Regions from separate parts of the Homo sapiens genome. Here regions 1, 2, 3 and 4 are each linked to region 5. Evidence: fine-mapped expression QTL. A gene starts in region 5. Each other region holds a variant in brackets. All regions are shown on one strand. Distances are between the middles of the regions.

Region 1 (4,115 bases), 53 kb after region 5:
ATAGAACAAAGTGCCCAAGTCGCCATTAGGGTTTTTCCTTCCTAAGAGAGATGACATTCAGCTGCTTCAAAGCAACAGGCAAGGTCTGCTGAGACAATTGACCAAGAGGGGTGCTGCGTGCGCTCAGAGAGCCCAGACTGGCTCAAGGTCGGCACGCGTGCCTGGGGAGGGAGGGTGCAATGCGCGCGCAGGGGAGGCATGAGTCACCGCGGTCCTTTTCCTCTACAGGGCTCCGAGAAGGGTGCAGTGAGGCCCACAGCCTTCAAGCCTGTGCTGCCACGGTCAGGAGCCATCCTGCACTCCTCCCCGGAGAGTGCCAGCCACCAGCTGCACCCCGCCCCTCCAGACAAGCCCAAGGAGCAGGAGCTGAAGCCTGGCCTGTGCTCTGGGGCGCTGTCAGACTCCGGCCGGAACTCCATGTCCAGCCTGCCCACACACAGCACCAGCAGCAGCTACCAGCTGGACCCGCTGGTCACACCCGTGGGACCCACAAGCCGTTTTGGGGGCTCCGCCCACAACATCACCCAGGGCATCGTCCTCCAGGACAGCAACATGATGAGCCTGAAGGCTCTGTCCTTCTCCGACGGAGGTAGCAAGCTGGGCCACTCGAACAAGGCAGACAAGGGCCCCTCGTGTGTCCGCTCCCCCATCTCCACGGACGAGTGCAGCATCCAGGAGCTGGAGCAGAAGCTGTTGGAGAGGGAGGGCGCCCTCCAGAAGCTGCAGCGCAGCTTTGAGGAGAAGGAGCTTGCCTCCAGCCTGGCCTACGAGGAGCGGCCGCGGCGCTGCAGGGACGAGCTGGAGGGCCCGGAGCCCAAAGGCGGCAACAAGCTCAAGCAGGCCTCGCAGAAGAGCCAGCGCGCGCAGCAGGTCCTGCACCTGCAGGTACTGCAGCTTCAGCAGGAGAAGCGGCAGCTCCGGCAGGAGCTCGAGAGCCTCATGAAGGAGCAGGACCTGCTGGAGACCAAGCTCAGGTCCTACGAGAGGGAGAAGACCAGCTTCGGCCCCGCGCTGGAGGAGACCCAGTGGGAGGTGAGGCCACACAGGGCTCATGGGTTTGGGTGGTCAGCGGTTTGGCGCCAGTACCCCCCTCTCCTTCTGGTGCCGGCCAATAGCGTGCAAACACAGACCGCGCAGGCAAGCGGGGCTAATGTGCTGGCTTTATCACCCAAAGAAGGGGCTCCCTGCAAACCATGTTGGGGGATCGACTTACATCTGAGCTTCCTCCTGTCCCCACCATCACCCTCATGGCTCCTAGATTTCAGTTTCCCAAGTGAGCCATTAAATCATGAAGCCGGAAGCCAGATGACCAAGGCCCAGCCAGGCTGTGGGCTGACCTCCCTTCCATCAGCTCCCAGGAGGCTCAGAAGAAGAACAAGCCGTGCCTGAGTTCAGGCGGGGCCAGGGGCCCAAGAGAGCACAGAATGCATTTGTTGCTTTGGAGGGAGGGACTGCACCCACTAGTAAGAGGGACCCTATTGGTGGCAGGTTTCAGTGATGGAAGTGGCCACTCCTTGCTGAAGTGTAAGTGGAACTTCTATTTGGTGAGCTGAGATGGAAACCTAGGAGAGGAAGTAAAGAGTCCCCCACTCACACACTTACACACTCACACACACTCACTCACCCGGTCACACGTGGAAATGAGGCATCTGTACCTGACCGTGCTGGAGAACCCCATAACCTCTGCATCTATTAGTGGGAAAGCAGCTTTTCTCACCAGCCTGGTGGTCTGGATGACTCATGGAGTTCAAGCCCATCGTTGAGGCTCTTTACATGCTCGCACCCAGCTTGGTCTGTCCACGTGCCTGCCTCACCCCCAGTTCAGAGTCCAACTCTCAGTCTACACGCAAACCCCTGGCTATGTGCAAGTCAACAACCAGTGGTTTAACTTGCCCACTGCTGGCAGCTGTATCACCCCCATTTAACACCAATGGTATTGGTTTTGGTGTCAGCCTGATTTC[C/T]GTCATCGACGTTTATGCCCACATCCTCTGACCTCACCCCTGCATGCACCCAGCCCTCCTCTCTCCTGTCTACTGGAGTAAAGACTACCTCACAAATTCACTGCTGTACCCAGTGACTAGTATCATGCTGGCTTGGATGCAGAGCCCAATCCACATCTGTCAAACGAGGAATCATTGTCTTCTCCTCTTGCTCTTCTTCTCTATTTCCACCCCTATCCCCCATCAAAATTTGGCCAAGAGCAATGATGAAAACCGAAGCCACAGGTTAGACCCATGTGTCTCTGGATCTTGGCCATCTGGGGTCATGGGAGACCAAGGCCAGTCTGGCTGAATCTTAAGAGTGAATGAAGTCCAGAGCATGTGGCTCTACAGAATGGATTCTTGGAACTAGCCTGGAAGCCACCTTCACATTTCCTTTCACAGTAGAAATTTCCCCTTGCCCTCAGTGAAACACTGCACAGTCCTGGAGAAAATCCGACCCTACCCAGGATGCGTGCTTGGGACCAAGAATTTCATTCCAAGGCCAACCCTGTATTCATGCCACGAAGGGAGTGACACAGTCATGGCTGAGGCATGGGCCTGGCTTTGAACCTCAGCTTGACCACTTATGATCCAGGTGATTGTAAATACATTAGCCATGGTGGCAATGGGGTATAGTGATTAAACTGTTGGGATCAAATCTCTACTCTTATACTTTATATTTTATATATATATATATATATATATATATATATATATATATATATATATATATTAGCCCTCAGGCTGGTCACTTCACCAGCTATTTGCTATCATAACCTCTCTGTGCCTCAGTTTCATTGATGTAAATTGAGGACTACTAATAGTACCTACTTCATCGGGTTGTAAGGAATAGATGAGCAAATGTATGGCTTGGCACTTAATAACACTACAAATTATTAGTGAAAGTATGTTTATAATAATATACTTCTGTGTGGCTAGGCGTGGTGGCTCACGCCTGCAATCCCAGCACTTTGGGAGGCAGAGGCAGGCAGAGCACTTGAGGTCAGGAATTCGAGATCAGCCTGGCCAACATGAGGAAACCCCGTCTCTACTAAAAATACAAAAATCAGCCAGGCATGGTGGCAGGTGTCTGTAATCCCAGCTACTTGGGAGGCTGAGGCAGGAGAATCAGAGGGGAGGCGGAGGTTGCAGTGAGCCAAGATCACGCCACTACACCCCAGCCTAGGTGACAAAGCGAGACTTCTCAAATAATAACAATAATAATATACTATGTGTCATTATACATGATTATTATTATTTTATCATTTTACTATATAGCCTAGCTCGATAACCTGGGGAAAAGGTCACAGCAATGTTCAGCTTACTTTCAGATTGGACAAAGGCTGGAATGCCTAACACCGGGCCACCGCATCCGGAGTGGCTTGGTTATTTTAGGCAGCTGAGCTGTCACTTCCCTGGGTAAGGACACTCACCTCTTGGCACTCTGTCTCCACCCCACCCTCGGCAGGTGTGCCAGAAGTCAGGCGAGATCTCCCTCCTGAAGCAGCAGCTGAAGGAGTCCCAGACGGAGGTGAACGCCAAGGCTAGCGAGATCCTGGGTCTCAAGGCACAGCTGAAGGACACGCGGGGCAAGCTGGAGGGCCTGGAGCTGAGGACCCAGGACCTGGAGGGCGCCCTGCGCACCAAGGGCCTGGAGCTGGAGGTCTGTGAGAATGAGCTGCAGCGCAAGAAGAACGAGGCGGAGCTGCTGCGGGAGAAGGTGAACCTGCTGGAGCAGGAGCTGCAGGAGCTGCGGGCCCAGGCCGCCCTGGCCCGCGACATGGGGCCGCCCACCTTCCCCGAGGACGTCCCTGCCCTGCAGCGGGAGCTGGAGCGGCTGCGGGCCGAGCTGCGGGAGGAGCGGCAAGGCCATGACCAGATGTCCTCGGGCTTCCAGCATGAGCGGCTCGTGTGGAAGGAGGAGAAGGAGAAGGTGATTCAGTACCAGAAACAGCTGCAGCAGAGCTACGTGGCCATGTACCAGCGGAACCAGCGCCTGGAGAAGGCCCTGCAGCAGCTGGCACGTGGGGACAGCGCCGGGGAGCCCTTGGAGGTTGACCTGGAAGGGGCTGACATCCCCTACGAGGACATCATAGCCACTGAGATCTGAGGGGCTGCCTGGGAAGGCGAGTC
Region 2 (4,115 bases), 25 kb after region 5:
TTGTGCAAACGAATTCAGCAAGAACTCACTCATGACTGTGAGGAGGGCACTCAGCCATTCTTTTTTTTTTGAGACAGAGTTTCACTCTTGTTGCCCAGGCTGGAGTGCAATGGTGCGATCTTGGCTCACTGCAACTTCTGCCTCAGGTGCAAGCGATTCTCCTGCCTCGGCCTCCCGAGTAGCTGAGATTACAGGTGCCCACCACAATGCGCAGCTAATTTTTTTTTTTTTTTTTTGTATTTTTAGTAGAGATGGGGTTTCACCATGTTGGCCAGGCTGGTCTTGAACTGCTGACCTCAGGTGATCTGCCCACCTCAGCCTCCCAAAGTGCTGGGATTACAGGCGTGAGCCACCGTGTCCAGGCCACTAAGCCATTCTTGAGGGATCCACCCCGGTGACCTAAACACCTCCCACCAGGCCTCACCTCCACCCTTAGAGATCAAATTTCAACATGAGATTTGGAGGGGACAAACATCCAAATGATATCCTCTCCCATCTCACAATCTTACCCTTGTCCTGCTTCTGTAATGATTTTCTTCAACCATTCCTATAACCATTACGTTAAAAAATACTGAGTAGACACCGTCTTTGCTGAGTAGCTCAGGGAGAACAACTGTTCTTGCTGCCATTGCAGCCACCCAGGCCCTGGGGAATGATTTGAAAGAACAGATAAGCGAACTGTGAGCTGCAGATCATCAGCCTAGACCTGGCTGGTTAGAGAAGAATTCAGCCTAGAGAGGAGGTAGAAGGTAAGTCTGGGAGGTACTTGTGAGCGGTTTTTTAGAGAGCCTTGAATGCCAGGCTAATGTCCAGGTGGAAGGTAGGGAGTGCAGCTCCCAGAACTGGCTGGATCTAAGGAGGAAGGATGGGAGGAGGAGAGCTGGGTCTGTCCGGAGTGATGTCGCTGACAGTGCTTTAAGGAAGGGAACTGTCAGGACCACCCTGCCCCTTCCTCCCTCCCTGCTCTGCTGTGCCCACCAATTCTCCTGGCACTTCTTGAAATAACATTAGCGCAATCGACTCCCCAGCTATTAAAGGGGAAGGCAGTTCCACATTCAGGCGGTGCTGCTTTTTTATTTCAAGTGTTCTCACTGCTAATGGGACATGGGGTCTGAACACATGTGCACGCGCCTCCGTGCATGTGGCAGCGGGAGGAATTATCCCCATGAATGTCAATGAATGGGCAGGGACAATGAGGTACAGTGAATGAGCAAGTTGTAAGGGGGCCTTTCACAGAGGTCTGAATGACAAGTGAACTCTGAAGAAGACTGCCAGCAGGAACACGAGCCACATCCAGAGAATGAGAGAGGACTGTTACGCCTGACAAAGCCAGGCTGCGGGAAGAGCCAAAGTCCTTCCAATTAGCACTATTACTGGGCAGATGAAAGCAGAAGGAAGGGTGCACCCTTATTGTGGGCTACTCTAAGAAGATCAGGGCCGATTCTTCGAAAGAAAGAACTGAGAAAACGAGGGAAATCCAGCCTCATCTGGGGTTGGGGTGGTACCTAAGGGAATAAGAGCAAGCACTTTCACTGTCTCCTGTGTAGGAGGATGGCCTAAGGCCTCCTTCACCTCTTTTCTCGGTCAGTAGCAATTCTACTTCTTGGGATGGAAGTGAAATCAGGAAAAGAAAATTCACTGGCAATTTCAGCAATTTTTTTTTTTTTTTTTTGAGACACGGTTTCTCTCTGTCACCCAGAGATCATGGCTAACTGCAGCCTCAACCTCCTGGGCTCAGGTGATCCTCCCACCTCAGCCTCCTGAGTAGCTGGGACTACGGGCATGTGCTACCATGCCCAGCTTATTTGTTTGTTTTTATTAGAGTTGGGGTCTCACCATGTTTCCCATGCTGGTCTCAAACTCCTGAACTCAAGCGATCTGCTCACTTTGGCCTCCCAAAGTGCTGGTATTACAGGCATAAATCACCATGCTCAGCCTCTTTTTTTTTTTTTTTTTTTTTGAGACAGGGTCTTGCTCCATCACCCAGGCTGGAGCTCACTGCAGCCTGGAACTCCTGGACTTAAGCGATCCTCCCACCTCAGACTCTCAGTAGCTGGGACTTCAGGTGCATGGCACCACGCCCAGCTAATTTTAAAATGTTTTGTAGACATGGGGGGTCTCACTATGTCACCCAGGCTGGTCTCGAACCCCTGGCCTCAGGCGATTCTCTCAATTCAGCCTTCCAAAGTCCAGCAATTTCTGAGGCAAATAGCTAGATGTCTGCTATTTTTTATTTTCCTGTCACCAGCCCACTAACACATCTTCCAACTTCTTTGAGCCTCTCTGATTTCCCTCCCTCCTTCCTTGGATGGCTGTTTAGCTGGGTAAATGGAGACAAAACAATGTTAGTCTTCAAGAAGCCCAAAGACTAGCAGAGGGGATAGACAGATAAAGAACA[G/C]GTTACTTCAGAAACAGAATGAAATCAATTCTCTAAGAGTTTCAGTCTGCCATTGTACAATGACAGACAAGGCAGCAAAGAAAACATAGGATGGCTTCCTGGAGGAAGTGACATTTGAGCTGGACCTTGAAGGATGGGTTTTCACAGGCAGAAGGCTGGAGATATAGGGAGAAGTTTTGTGAAAGAGATTCTAGGTTGTGCCTGTGGCACATGAGAGCATTATGTGCTGAGTGGCATTTGGAAGAAATGGTGAGAAAGCACTGACAGGTGACAGGACAAATAAAACTGGCAATTGGGGTTGGGACCCAGGGCATAAAGGGTCATGAATGTACTGCAGGGAGTGAGTACAGATCTCCGAGGAAGGAAATTAAGACAATTATTGGAGAGAGGAGAGGCTGGAAAAGAACCTGAAGCTGTCAAGTCTGTGTTTTAGAAAGGCAGTGCCTAGTTGCTGCAATGTGGAAGATCTATTTGAGCTAGGAGAGAACTAAGGCAGAAAGTCCATTCATTCATTCATTCATTTGATGAATATGTATTGAGCTCCATATTAGCAGCAGCAAATCCATACAGGCCTGCAGCAACCCCAGTTCTTGCCTCCTCAGAGAAAGAATTAGACAGAGGAGGTATAAGGCAGAGTGAGAAACTGAGGCAAGTTTTAGAGCAGGAGTGAAAGTGTATTAACAACTATCAGGGCAGGAATGAAATGGAGTGAAGCACGCTTGTAAGAGAGCCCGGTGGGAGGCCTGTGAGAGAGTCAAGTGTACGGTTTGACCTTTGACCTGGGGTCTTATGTTGGCATCTTCCTGTTGCGTTATTTCCTCCTGATTCTTCCCTTTGGGTGGGCTGTCCACATGCACAGTGGCCTGCCAGCACTTGGGAAGGGCAAATGCTGTACCTGCACCGTGGGTTTACTGAAGTTGTGTGCATGCTCATTTGAGGAATTCTCCACTTACCTGTCTCGTTCCTAGAGGAAGGTAATATACCAGTTATACCATTTTGCCTCTTAGTGCGCATGCTTGAACCCACACACCCAACTGCTGAGATCTTATCAGGAAGCTGCTGATCACCAGCTTCAGGTGTTTCTATCTACTGGGAGACTGCCTGTCCCTGGCACCAGCTGTGACCAATTATTATTTCAGCGACACACTGTAACAACCACCTGACCATCTGATGGTCACCTGACATTCCTGGGTTGGGGACTCTCCTGCCCTGCTCATGCCTGCCCGACTACCTACTGTAACACAACTATGTGCCAGGCGCTGTGCTAAGTGATACATACAGTGGTGAGCAAGACGTTCCAAGGTGCTCATAGTAGATGGGAGTGTTTCCACACACACATTATCCTGCTCCCAGCCTTCCCTCCAGTCCCAGGGTTCCCAAGCTCTGCACCAAGCTGGAATTGGCATTAGACACAGCAAGTCCTACTGGGAAATGGCTAGGAGGCTGACAAATCCTGCTGTTTTGGATCTTGCACCAGATTCTTGGCACTATGGTGCACAGAAACAGAGAAAAGGGTGCTTTTAGGACAGTTCGCCCACCTGGAGTTGCTGGAATTTTCTAACACCCCACCCTACTTCCTCCAACTCATAGATCAGCCTACAAAGTGAAAATCCACAGTTAAAGGCCCAGTTCTTAAACCATTTCTTGGTTTGTCCTGTTGGAATTAATACCAGCCTTATATACTTGTTACTGGAAAGAGGTCCTAATCCAGTCCCCA
Region 3 (4,115 bases), 32 kb after region 5:
GGGGTCTAACACTCAGGCCCACAGACTCCAACACGCCCACAGGCTCGGACCCAATGCTCAGGCCAGAGTGCCACTGAGGCATGAGTGCCCACATGGAGAAGCCTCCATCACACACCGGGATGGAGATGATTGCCGCTATGCTCCAAGCTACCTAGTGTATTCCAAGGGGTTCCCTAGGATGAGGAGAAGGGATGAAAAGTTCGTAAACACCCACTGTGTAGAGTGTTTTATGGTGTTGCATTTGGGAAAGGGTAGCTGGTAGAACATAGGCACCATAAAATAAAATACGATGCATAAACACACGCTTATCCATTCATTCAACAAACAAGCACTGAGTCTTGGGCCAGAAGGTACTGCGCTCGAAGCTGGGAGTACAGTGTTGGGTGAAAAACAGTCTTGCCATCTACTGAGAAAGAGCTCAAAGTAGAGAGCAGCTGTGCTACAGAGTGATTAATGCCCACTGTAAGAACACGCAGAAGGGGCCTCACAGATACGGGAAGGCTTCATAGCAGAAGAGTGCCTTCTGAGCAAAGTCCCAGGGGCTTTGGGCCTAGGGAGCAGCGTGGGAAAACCTAGGGCAGGGTCTGAGGGAGAAAATGACAGATTTACAAACTCCAGTCTCAGAATAGAGGGCGGGCAGGCCTGGGGAGGGGAGGAGAGGAAGTGGTGGCGGATGACATGAAGATACAAAGATACAGAAAGTCCCAGTCATGAAGGCCTTCTCTGCCATGTTAGGACATTTGGGCTTTATTTTTGGGGCAATAGGGTAGCCTTGGGAGAGCTAGGAAAAAAAAAAACAAATATAACAGGTCTATTAATTTCCCAAGGGAACTATGATAGCAACTTAGACTAAGACAGTGGCTATGGAATCTCAGGGAAATGCTGGTTTTGAGGAAAAGCAATAGTGAGACAGGGCTTGGTGGCTGGTCAGATGTAGGGTGAGGGCTGAGTGGGAATCAAAAGTTCCTGGTTTGCTTAGGTTTCTTGGGACCGGTTTCTGGCTTGATCACAGTTGTGCTGTTCACTAACACCGGGATTCCAGAAGGAGGGGCACGCTGAAGGCAGATGGATCCTGGCAAGCAAGAGAGAATGAAGAATTCCACTGTGGATGTGCGAGGGTGAGATGTGGCCCCTCCGAGGGAAGCGCAGTTGGATGTTTAGGGCAGGAGCTCAGGGGAGAGGATTTGGCTGCAGATAACGATCTAAAAATCATCCCCATGTGGATGCAGCTGACGCCGTGCAGAAGGAGCAGAGGTCAGGGTCTCAGATACAGCCTGAAAAGCATCCACATTTAGAGAATGAAAGAGGTAAAGGTGACAGAGGACAGGCTGCGCAACAGGAGGAAAGCCAGGCAATCACGGTATCACATAAGCCAAGGAAGCAGTGTTTCAAAAAACACAGACCGAAAAAGAAAGAGACAGAGCCGCCGAGAGGTCAAGTTTGCTAACTATTGGGAAGGTCCATTGGATTTAGCAACATCCCGGAGGGCAGTTCTAGTGGATTGGTGGGGACAGAAACCAGGGCCTCTGTGGATTGAAGAGCCAATGAGAAATGATCGAGCAGCAATAGTGAGTATGATGTTCTGTCTCTCTCGAGAAGCTTGGCTGTGAACGGGAGAAAAAAGACAGTGGTCCCTGGAGAAGAAAATGGAGTCCAGGAGCTTGTATGTTATTTTTGAATTGGGAGACTTGTGCACGTTTAAATGCTCATGGGAGAGAATAATAGAAAACTGGAAGTGAGAAGGTTGGCGTTGACGAGAGTCACGCCATGGCTGGAAGGATTAGTCTGAGATGAAGACAGACTTCTGTTTCACGGTGACAGGCACAGAGGAGGCAGCAGTCATGTCAATTGCAGGTTTATGAGTTCAGGGAATTGAGGGAGTTTCCTCCCAATGATTCTACTTATCTCTGTATTATAGAGATGAAGTTGTCTGCAGGGAGTGTGGCAGCAGAGGTGGGTACAGGGCTTTGTAAGTGGCAAAGGACTGATAAGATTTGAGAAATGCAACAGGGAGCAGGAGAAGCACAGGGCAGCTAGGGGGTCTTGATTCTAGGGTCCCCATCGGCATCTGGGCTCAAAAAAGAGTTCCAT[G/A]TCTAGTGGACAAAGGCACCACTTCAAAATACAAAGACCACCCAGCAGGGAAAACCAATGAGGACCTGATCTGGGAAGGGGGGTCAGGCTCAGAAGGGAGAATTGGGCATGAGCAAAGCCACAGGGGAGGAAAAAAGCAAGACAGGCCCTTGAGGGTGGTCAAGGGACACCAGTAAGGTCACTCTGGAGGTCAGATGCGACCCAGAGTATCAGCAGCTGCACATCGTGGATCAGTCAAGAAGCAGGCCCAGTCATTCTAGCCTGAAATAGTGGGAGATGACCTGGGAAGACAGGTTGGGCTTAGATTGCATCGGACCTTGAATGCCAAGTTAAATGTGTCCATTGTCTGACATGATTCATGACATGATTCTATTAAGGCAGATTCTGTTCTGCTCAGTGCTATGCCTACAGGGCCCTGATGGAGACTGTGCACAATAAATGTTCAATAAGTACTTGTGAATATTGAAAAAATGCACAGGTGCTCCCAGCAGCTCACCCCTCCAGTGGCTGTTCTTTCTACCTGTCAAAGCCTGTGCTGACACATATACTGGGAGGTGACCCCCAGCTGCGGCTGCCCCACCAGGCACATCAAGCCAGGCCCCGGCCCTGCTTTCACCTGGCTCGCCTATGGCTAGTCTGTCCAGCAGCCGCTGTGCACCCACCAAACCACAGGCAATGGAAATGCATAGTCTTGGGTTTGAATTCTTAACAGAGCATAGGACTGGCATTGCTTTATTCAGACACAGTCAAGGAAGGCAAGGGGGAGGGAGAGGCGCTTTTCCACCATCCCTGCACTGGTGAAGCAGCCGCGGTCAGGGAGGTTGTTCCTGGCAGAGGGAAGAGTAGGTGGGAAAGAACCGAGAGGATGGCAAGTGGGGCCTATGAGTCACTCAGCGTCACCGGGGCCAGAAGGGCAAGGAGGTTCAGAAGCAAAGTGGGAGTGACCCCGAGCATCTACAGGTGGCTCTTCGGAGCCTCTTTAAGCACCTCTGGCCTTGCTGCTGGTAACACTCACCAGGAAGGTTCATGGAGACAGAGGGGGCACAGCTGAGGGACTTAGGTGGCAGCTGGGGGTCAACACTGCAGGAGCCCTGGGCTTCCAACAAGAGGTTAATTATCTCACTGTCAGGGGCTGTGGGGTCCACAGACTCCAGGAGAGTGGAAACACGGCCGGATGCTCAACCCAGGCTCAGCGGCTCCTGGGCTAAATGTGAGGCTCTAGTTCACTGAGAAGCCTTGCAGGAGGAGGCAAGGAGCTTGAGGAATCAGGGCAGAGGTGACACAGAAGTCAAAATTCCTCAGCCAGACACATCAAAGGGTACCAAGAGAGCTTTAACTCAGGACAGGTAGAGACTCGTTGGGAATGGCCACAGGCTTCCTGGCTTGTGCACACAGACTCCCATGCTGTTGAGCACACAAAAATACACTCAGGCACACACAGACAGTGCCAGGTACCCAAAGCTGCCCTCCCTGAGGGACCAGGTTAAACTCTTCGTGCCACGCCAGGTCATTTCCAGCACCCAAAGTCAGGAATCTGAGCTGTGCTTCCTGCTGGGGCTTCCTCAATTCCAATCCTTTCTGGGTTCCGAAACCCAGAAATGTGAAATCAACCAGGTCTCCCTGTTCCACCCCTTCCCTCTCCACACACACAAACACACACACACACACACACACACACACACACAGAGGACACACTCGGTGCATCTAAAAGATGAGCCCTACTGAAGTAGGGGTGAGGGGTAAGGCCAGAAGGGGAGGGAGTGTCTTTAAGACTTGTACTGTGTTTCCCCCACCCTTCCTCCTGTCCCACACCTGCCCACCTCCTGGAGGAGTCTGCGCCTTTTGTCCTAAGTTCTCCCTCTTCCCTGTCCAAACCAAAGCCCTCCTGGGTATGGCAGAGGTGGCAGAGGGCTTTCCAGCCTTCCTGCTTCTTTCTACTCTGTCTTGCCACCTCTGTCCTTCGCCATACTCTTGCCCCATCCAAACTCACAAGCTCCAAAGTTCCCTTAATTTTCCCTGGAAAG
Region 4 (4,115 bases), 38 kb after region 5:
ATCTTTCCATACTGCTCTATAATTTCACATGCACTTTGGTTTCAGTGCATCCCATGTGTACTGTCCTCACTGGTCAAGCATTTTTTGTATCTGTGATTTCATTTAATCCTGACAGTGGCCGGGCTTTGGTATCAACTGTGCTTATCTGACACATGAGGAAATGGAGACCCTGAAAGATTGAATTGTATGCCTGATGATACAGCAGATCCGTCGGTCTGGGATCTTTTGTCTAGGGCCTAATGCAAACATGCAAGTAAAGTGTGTGCCAAGTGTGAGGTCTGGGCCGGGCGCAGTGGCTCACACCTGTAATCCCAGCACTTTGGGAGTCCGAGTCGGGTGGATCATGAGGTCAAGAGATCGAGACCATCCTGGCCAACATGGTGAAACCCGTCTCTACTGAAAATAAAAAAATTAGCTGGGCATGGTGGCGTGAGCGCCTGTAGTCCCAGCTACTTGGGAGGCTGAGGCAGAAGAGTCACTTGAACCCGGGAGGCAGAGGTTGCAGTGAGCCGAGATCACATCACTGCACTCCAGCCTGGCGACAGAGTGAGACTCTGTCTCAAAAAACAAACAAGCAAAAAAACAAGTGTCTGTTCTGATGAATGATGACTGATGGTTTCCTCCTAAGGCCCTACAACTGTGCTGGCCACATGTAAGAGTAGGCAGGGCCCAGTAAGTGGGTTGAGTGTCCCAGAGCAGGAGTGAGGCAGCACCAGAATTAGAGCTCTGGTTCCCTGACTGCAGCACCGCCCTCCTACCCCAACTCCCGCACCTCTGCTATCCAGCCCCCAACATGGAGACCAGGTCTACACTCTTGGGCTCTCAGCACCCTGGGGACAAAGAAGCAGGAGGAAAAGAACACAAGGACGATGCCAGAAACCAGGGGACCCGACAGCCCAGACAGCATCCTCCACCAGGGTGCCTGAGAGGTGAGGCGGATAAGAGAGTAGCTGTTTTCTTTTTTTTTCTTTTCTTTTTTTTTTTTTTTGAGATGGAGTCTCACTTTGTTGCCCAGGCTGGAATGCAGTGGTGCGATCTTGGCTCACTGCAACCTCTGCCTCCTGGGTTCAAGTGATTCCTCGGCCTCAGCCTCCTGAGTGGCTGGGACTACAGGTGCGCGCCACCATGCCTGGCTAATTTTTGTATTTTTAGTAGAGACAGGGTTTCACCATGTTGCCCAGGCTGGTCTTGAACTCCTGACCTCTGGTGATCTGCCCACCTTGGCATCCCCAAGTGCTGGGATTACAGGTGTGAGCCACCATGCCTGGCCAAGAGAGTAACTTTCACCTCCTTTCCTACAAAAGAAAAAATTAAAAACCGCTCACATGCTAGGGGCAGAGACAAACTGGCTCTAACTCAGCACATTCCTAAGAAAGCTGCATTTTTGGTTAAATTCATGCTGCTTTTTAAACCCTTTTTGTTTAGGTGTACATAGCTGTCAGATCTCTCCACCAGATCCTCAAAAACAGAAACTCTGCCTTGTATTTTTTTTTTGTCTTGGTCCAAAACGCCGAACAGGATTGGTTGTTGAGGAAGGGGGTGGATGCACTTCCCCCAGGTGACCAGTTGTCTCAAAGTCTACATGATGAATGTTTGAGTGAAAACCAGATTTGGGTTCTGGTAGTATAGACTTGGCTTCGGTATCTGCATATGTGGAGACCTCAGTTTAAGTCACATGCCTTCCCAGAGCCTCAGCTTCCCTTCTGTGAACTAGGTCAGTAGTCCCTGTGCCTCCTTATGAGCTGGTTTTATTAAAAATATTTATTGAGAGCCAGGTGTGATGGCTCACACTGGTAATTCCAGCACTTTGGGCGGCCAAGGCAGGAAGATCACTTGAGCCCAGGAGTTTGAGACCAGCCTAGGCAACATAGCAAGCCCTGCCCTGTCTCTGCACAAAATTTAAAAATTAGACAGTTATGGTGGCATATACCTGTAGTCCCAGCTACTTGGGAGGCAGAGGAAGGAGGATCTCTTGAGCCTTGGAGGTTGAGGTTGCAGTGGGCTACAATTGCACCACTGCACTCCAGCCTGGACAAGAGAGTGAGACTCTGTCTCCAAAAAAAAAAAAAAATTGTTGAGCATCTATTATGTTCTTAGTACTGTGTTTGACCCTGTGTGTGATACAAAGAAGCTTTAGTGCTATCTGCCTTCAAGGGGGTTTAAAGATAAGTGGGGTGACAGACTTTCACCCCTGAAAAGTTAGATGATGCAAGAGCTGTGCAGGCTGAGGGCCAAGGGAGCTGAGCACTGAGGAGCAACTGTGGCCAAGGGAACTTCCTGCCCTCTGCGCAGAGCAGGGAGATGGGAGCCAGGCCTGAAACAGGGCTGTATTCTTTCTTGGAAAGGAAGCTGAGGTTTCATGGTGAGATTCAGGGGTTGTTTTCTCCCCTGCCTTTTTTTTTTTTTTTTTTTTTTTTTTGAGACAGAGTCTCTCTGTTGCCCAGGCTGGAGTGCAGTGGCATGATCATAGCTCATTGCAACCTCCAACTCCTAGCCTGAAGCAATCCTCCCACCTCAGCCTACCA[A/G]ATAGCTGGGACTATAGGCATTGTGGCACTGTGCCTGGCTCATTTTTTTAAAAAATCTTTTGTAGACATGGCAGGGAGGGTCTCACAGTGTTTCCCAGGCTGGTCTCGAACTCCTGACCTCAAGCCATCCTCCTCCCTTGGCCTCCCAAAGTGTTGGGATTATAGCCATGAGCCACCATGCCTAGCTGAGATGCAAGTTCTTTATGAGAGGCCTTGCTCCTCTTTTTCTCTGCAGTCAACACGATGCCTGCCATGCCGCTACCCTGGGGGACAATGTGAATGAATAATAGTGAGTGTGAAGTGCTCCAGGTTGCACAGATGGAACTGAGCATGAAAAAGCGAAGGCGTGGTTCCCATGGCTAAGATTAGAAATTACCCTGGGCTGGTGATGCCGCCCCAGTGGGAAGGAGAGAGCTACAGGCAGAACTCTGATCCCTGCCCGGCAACCTACCAGCCATTCCTGCAGACAGCTTGCTCCCCGACCTGGGACAGCAGCTGCAGCCTCCTCTGCCTTCCCAGCACTTGAACCCACAGGGTGACCCTCTCTGATTCAAGCAGCACCGTGAGCCCAACAGGCTGAACTCCCATTTGTATCAGACAAACTGACACACACACGTACACACCCCACATCCCCCCTTTCCACACGTGCCCTGGTAGATCAGGGGCTGCTCTTTCTCCCGTTTCCCTCTTCCCCTCAGCTGGAAATGAAACCCAGTTGTCCCTGTCCTGTTAGTCAAATAGACAGAATAAAGGGTTGGAGCCTGGAATTTGTGATATGAGCTTGGCAAATCCCTTTTCCGCTCTGGCCTCAGGGTGTAGTGAAGCATTTGGGGCAGAGGACGGCCGAGGTCCTGCCTGGCTGGTTGTGCCTCGAGTTCCAGGCTGCCTCAGAGCAGGGGGCTCCTCTGTACCTGCAGCAGGTCAACCCCTCTGCTCAGCCAAAGCTCCTTCACCACACCTGGTCACAGGGCTCCTCCCTGGGCCTCATTTCTGCCAGTGCCCCTCTTCTGAGTAACAGCAACTTCTCCTCCCCTCCCCCAGGGTAACACAGCCAACTGTGACTCAGGGGCTCTCTGTCTCACTGCCGCTGCCTTCCTTTGATATCTTGGCTAATAGAGGTCCTAGATGTCGTCTCTCCTGCACAGTTTAAGGAACGGGGCTTTAAAAACTGACAGCTTCTGAGACCCCCAATAAAATAAATCTTAGTAAAGCTTTCATACGTGGAAAAATAATCATATATAAGAGGGTTTTTGCAACAGAATGGAAACATCTAAGTAGGGAATAGTAAAAGAAATGAGGTGGAATATTACACAGCAGGTAAATGGGAAGATCTAGCTCTACATGCTGTCAATATGCATGGATCCGAAGTATCAAATAAAAGGTCGAATAAAACAATTAAGGTTGCAGAATGATATATATGACATGATATGACTTATGTAAAGTAAAAAACATATAGCATTCATAGACGTTAAAATATGTTTAATGATCCAAAAATGTTCCCACTCAAATCATGAGAATTTTCCACCTGGGGAGAGAGATTAGGGGTGGGAGTGGGGAGAAGGAATAGGGAATGGGGACTCCAGCTCTGAG
Region 5 (4,115 bases):
CTCCAAACCATCCACTTTCCAGATAGGAAACTGAGGTCTCATCAGGGACTCCAAACCATCCACTTTCCAGATGAGGAAACTGAGGCCTCATTAGGGACATGGCTTGTCCAAGAGCATATAGTCAGCAGTAGGGCCAGAACAAAAAGTGGGCTTCCAGAGTCCTTTGTCTCTTCCATGGAATCTCACCTCCGACGATGTGAAAATGAGTTTGAAGTCTGGAGCCCACCTCATACCTTAATCTACCTTCCAGGAGTCTGCTCTTTCCTTAAAGCGCTGGAATGTTTGATCGATATTAACTCATTCAGCTAAAATTCTTGAGATACTCTCACCAGCAAGCAAGAATACATGTTCTCTGTCAATAAATGCAACACAAAGAAGCATGGCGCTTTAGAAAAAGAAGACATTATTTTGCCCTGGACGATAAGAGAAGGTGTGAGTAAGGGTTCCATATTTTGTCTCAGATTTTGAGAGGTAGAGTTAGAAGAGCAGGAGAAAAGCTTTTCAGACTGAGGGGCAGGTTTATACAAAGGTGGGGAAAAGGAGGTGATGTTCAGGAAAAGGCTGAGTAGCCTTTGGGGTTGACACTTAGAAATTGTCGTATTGCTTGTAATTACTGCCACGTGTATGTACTTACCGCAAGGCAGTGGGTTTCATTTAATCATCAGAACAAACCTATACATGAGAAATTCATTCATTTAACAAATACATATTGAGTGCCTACTATGTTGCCTGGCAAGTTCTAGGTGTCGGGGATACATCTATGAATAAAACAGACCAAGTCCCTCAGCCACCAATAAAAGAGAACAAGTTCCTGCCTTCAGGGAATTTACACTGGGACTTGTTACCTCATTTCACAAATAAAAAAAGAAAGAAAGAAAAAGAAAAACTGAGAAAGAGGGAGGGGAAGGTAATGGCTCAAATAACAAGCAGCGAAGCCTGTCTGTGTTCTTAAACCCTCGCGGTGCCATCTTTCAGGAAGCCTAGATTCGAAGGTCAGAGTCTTCAGGGTCAACAACCGAAGGCAGTGAGATTCCCCTACAGGGTTTTGAGCAGGGGTGTGGCAGAAACCATATGGCTTGTTTTCCTTTGAGCTGTCCCCCCTGCCACCACAATTCTATTTAATTTTTTTGTATTTATTTATTTATTTATTTATTTTGAGACACGGTGTCACTCTGTCACCCAGGCTGGAGTGCAGTGGCACTATCTTGGCTCACTGCAACCTCTGCCTTCCAGGCTCAAGCAATTCCCAAGCCTCAGCCTCCCAAGTAGCTGGGATTACAGGCTCCTGCCACCACACCCAGCTAATTTTTGTATTTTTTTTTTTTTTTTTTTTTAGTAGAGACGGGGTTTCACCATGTTGGCCAGGCTGGTCTTCAACTCCTGACCTCAAGTGATCCACCAACCTCGGCCTCCCAAAGTGCTGAGATTACAGGCATGAGCCACCGCGTCCGGCCCCCATGCTATTTATAATCAGATCGGCTATGTCAATCCTAATCCATTACATCTATCCCCCACCCCCCAACACACACACACACACACACACACACACACACACACACACACAGGCTTCTTTCAAGATGAGGCTAACACTCCTTGGGCAGAGCTGCCATCTTCCCGCCAAGCCTGGTTTTAGAGGATTAGCCTCAGTGCACCCTCAAGCCCCCAAGCCTCATGCTGCACCTAGCACTCCGGTTAACTGACCCTTTGTCCTACAAAACCTTGTAAGCTTGAATCCTCTCCTGGCTCAGTTGCTAGAAGTTAAAAGTGAGGGTGGTTGAGAAAATGATAGTATTATAAGGGGACTGGGTGAGACTAATAGCTATAAACTTGAAACAGGCCTCTGCTGTCACCTGAAACTCAGCTCCCTCAGAGCTGGAAAAGTTTGCTTTTGACATGTTTTGGGAGTGGGAGTCCCGGTGCTCTGGACTCTAGCCTGTAATCCTGGTGTGGTTCGCAATGCCCCTCACTTGGGTGCTAGTCCAGTCCTTGAACAAAACACACGCCCTTTAGTGCGAGTCGGGAGCGGGAGAGACGGTATTAAGAAAAATAAACTGGCGATTAAGAGGAAGGGGTAATGAAGAAAGGGGAACATACACAGAACGGGAGAAGGAATGGATTTTAAACAAAACTGGAGTAAGAATTTCAGGTAATGAAAGGGAAAAAAGGATGCGACAAGAGCAAGACAGGAACAATCGGAGAAAGGGGGCCAGGCAAGAAAGGAAGACTGAGGGGGCAGGGTCGCCCAATGGGGCTGATGGAAGTGAGAGCAGAGAGACGGGACCCGGGACCCCGCGCAGGCCGCGGGCGCGAAGGAGCCGCGAGGTCGCGAGCAGCCCCAGCTGTCAGCCCGGAACAAAGGCCGCCGAGCGGCACAGACCAGGCTGCCGGCAGCTCGCTGCCAATCAGCGGCGCCGGCTCTGGCCCCGCCCCGGGCCGGCCCCGCCCCGCCCCGCCCCGCCCCGCCCCGCCCCGGCTCCGGGACCCGCGCAGAGGCCGGCGCGCCTGGAGCTGGCGGGTTGGCAGCGGCCGGGCGGGGAGGCCGAAAGTTTCTCTGCCCGCCTCGGCCAGTGAGTGGGAGCCGGGAGCTGCATCCCGCGCAGTGGGACCGGCCCGGCCCGCTCAGCAGCTCTGGAAAAAGAGAGACGGGAACACACCGGGAAACACTGGGAAAAAAAAAAAGTCTCAAGTGCGCCCGAGGCGCAGGGGGCAGGTAAGGTGCGGTGGCCGGGGATCTCCTCGCCCCTGGAGGGTCTGCTGCCCTGGCTGCGGGAAACCGCTTTCCCCTCGCCGGGCCGGACCGTCCGTGCGTCCGCGCGTCCGTCGGTCTTTGTCTGTCTGTGTCCGTGGCTGTCGAGGTGTCTTTGTCTCCGCGTGGAGCTGTCAGGGTCTCCCCTCTGCAGGGTGGGCGCCGCTTCTCCGGCCCGGCCCAGAGGAGGTGACTGTGCGTCTGTCCTCCTGTCTTTGTCTTCGTGTCTCCTGCAGACGGGGTTCGTCTATTCCCAGCACCGATGCTGATCCTGGCGGGGACGTCAGTGTTAGGTGACACTGGTGTCGGAGGTGAAGAAGTGGGAGGTGGGGACGCGAGGCCGCAGGAGCAGGGGCCGCAGGAAGAGGGTCCGGCGGTCGGTCCGGGCCGCTGAACTTCGCCGCCTGGAACTTTGCAGATGAGCTGTGTCCACACCGGTGGGGAGGACACCGGTGCGTTGCAGCCAGAGATTTGAAAGGTTTCCCTCAAGGAATAAGTCACACGGGCGGAGGTGGTTAGAGAGGAAGGTGGTAAATCGAAGTGTCTAAGTGGCTCCCTGGGGCTGCAGCTTCCTGGGGTCGGTCCTGGATGTGCAATTCAGGAATTTAGTCAAAGCACCATGCACACACAGACAGCCCCACACTACCTTCACTTCTTCCACCGCCACCCTAGGCAGCCAGACCTCACCCCTCCACCCTGCCACAGGCTTTGCTCTGGCTGGAGGGGCTTCAGAGGTCGCAGCTTGGCAGCAACAGGCATCCCCGAGACACCAAGGGCCAGGTGATGTCTCTTTTTCGTGCTCCAAGTGGAAAGGTTTGAACTGTGGAGCAAATGAGCCTTGTGCTCGCCCACGAGTATGTCAGGCCTGGGAAAGTGCTCCAGACTTGTTAGCTTCGCAGTCTTCAATTTCCCAGGAATAAGAAGTGCTTAGGGATCTGGCCTCCTAAAGTGTTTCCTGTCTCACTTATTCCCTCCACACCGTCCCGCTGCCATCAGCCCCTCTACTCTCTGGTCCCGGGCGCTGGGAAAGTACTGAGGAGGCACTGAGTTCTGGACCATGCCGGGCAGGCGCTGCTCCTAATAAGGATCCCACACTCTGCTGGAAGTGCAGCCTAATAGGAATGCTGGGAGCCCAGGAGCCCAGCCACAAAGAGATGAGCTATCTGCTTGGCAGTTCCTGCACCAAGACCCTGAGAAGAGTCTGCGGGTACCGGCAAGAGGGTGTTTGCAACCTGAGCTTTCTCTAAGTTCAAAAACAATTTTCTGCAGGCATCCAGAGGGAGAATGGAGGTGCCCGAAGAGTGTGCGCATATGGGTATTAGAGATAGCATGTACAGACGGGAAAGGTGTTTGTGTTTAAGAGTGGAGT

The links. PIP is the estimated chance that this variant, and not a neighbour inherited with it, causes the effect.
Region 1: its variant is fine-mapped to the expression of LZTS1 in whole blood (TOPMed, PIP above 0.99).
Region 2: its variant is fine-mapped to the expression of LZTS1 in whole blood (TOPMed, PIP above 0.99). The same link has a PIP of 0.9 or more in fibroblasts.
Region 3: its variant is fine-mapped to the expression of LZTS1 in whole blood (TOPMed, PIP above 0.99).
Region 4: its variant is fine-mapped to the expression of LZTS1 in whole blood (TOPMed, PIP above 0.99). The same link has a PIP of 0.9 or more in T cells, blood mononuclear cells and testis.

Annotation. Positions count from the first base shown.
Region 1 is chr8:20,249,699-20,253,813 of GRCh38, reverse strand. LZTS1 (leucine zipper tumor suppressor 1) reads left to right here. Exons shown (of 4, transcript NM_021020.5): 3 at 229-1,032; 4 at 3,451-4,115. The coding sequence ends at 4,092. Among named protein-coding and RNA genes, the nearest start is that of LZTS1-AS1, 24 kb to the left of the region's middle. RefSeq lists an enhancer at 3,705-4,115. The variant C/T (reference allele first, on the strand shown) is at 1,962.
Region 2 is chr8:20,277,527-20,281,641 of GRCh38, reverse strand. All of the region lies in intron 1 of LZTS1 (leucine zipper tumor suppressor 1), which reads left to right. The region is part of intron 1 of LZTS1-AS1 (LZTS1 antisense RNA 1); the gene reads right to left. Among named protein-coding and RNA genes, the nearest start is that of LZTS1-AS1, 3.8 kb to the right of the region's middle. The variant G/C (reference allele first, on the strand shown) is at 2,399.
Region 3 is chr8:20,270,461-20,274,575 of GRCh38, reverse strand. The region is part of intron 1 of LZTS1 (leucine zipper tumor suppressor 1); the gene reads left to right. Among named protein-coding and RNA genes, the nearest start is that of LZTS1-AS1, 3.3 kb to the left of the region's middle. RefSeq lists an enhancer at 2,167-2,702. The variant G/A (reference allele first, on the strand shown) is at 2,092.
Region 4 is chr8:20,263,981-20,268,095 of GRCh38, reverse strand. All of the region lies in intron 1 of LZTS1 (leucine zipper tumor suppressor 1), which reads left to right. Among named protein-coding and RNA genes, the nearest start is that of LZTS1-AS1, 9.7 kb to the left of the region's middle. The variant A/G (reference allele first, on the strand shown) is at 2,526.
Region 5 is chr8:20,302,335-20,306,449 of GRCh38, reverse strand. It overlaps LZTS1 (leucine zipper tumor suppressor 1), which reads left to right and starts at 2,487. Exons shown (of 4, transcript NM_021020.5): 1 at 2,487-2,710. RefSeq lists a silencer at 2,428-2,497.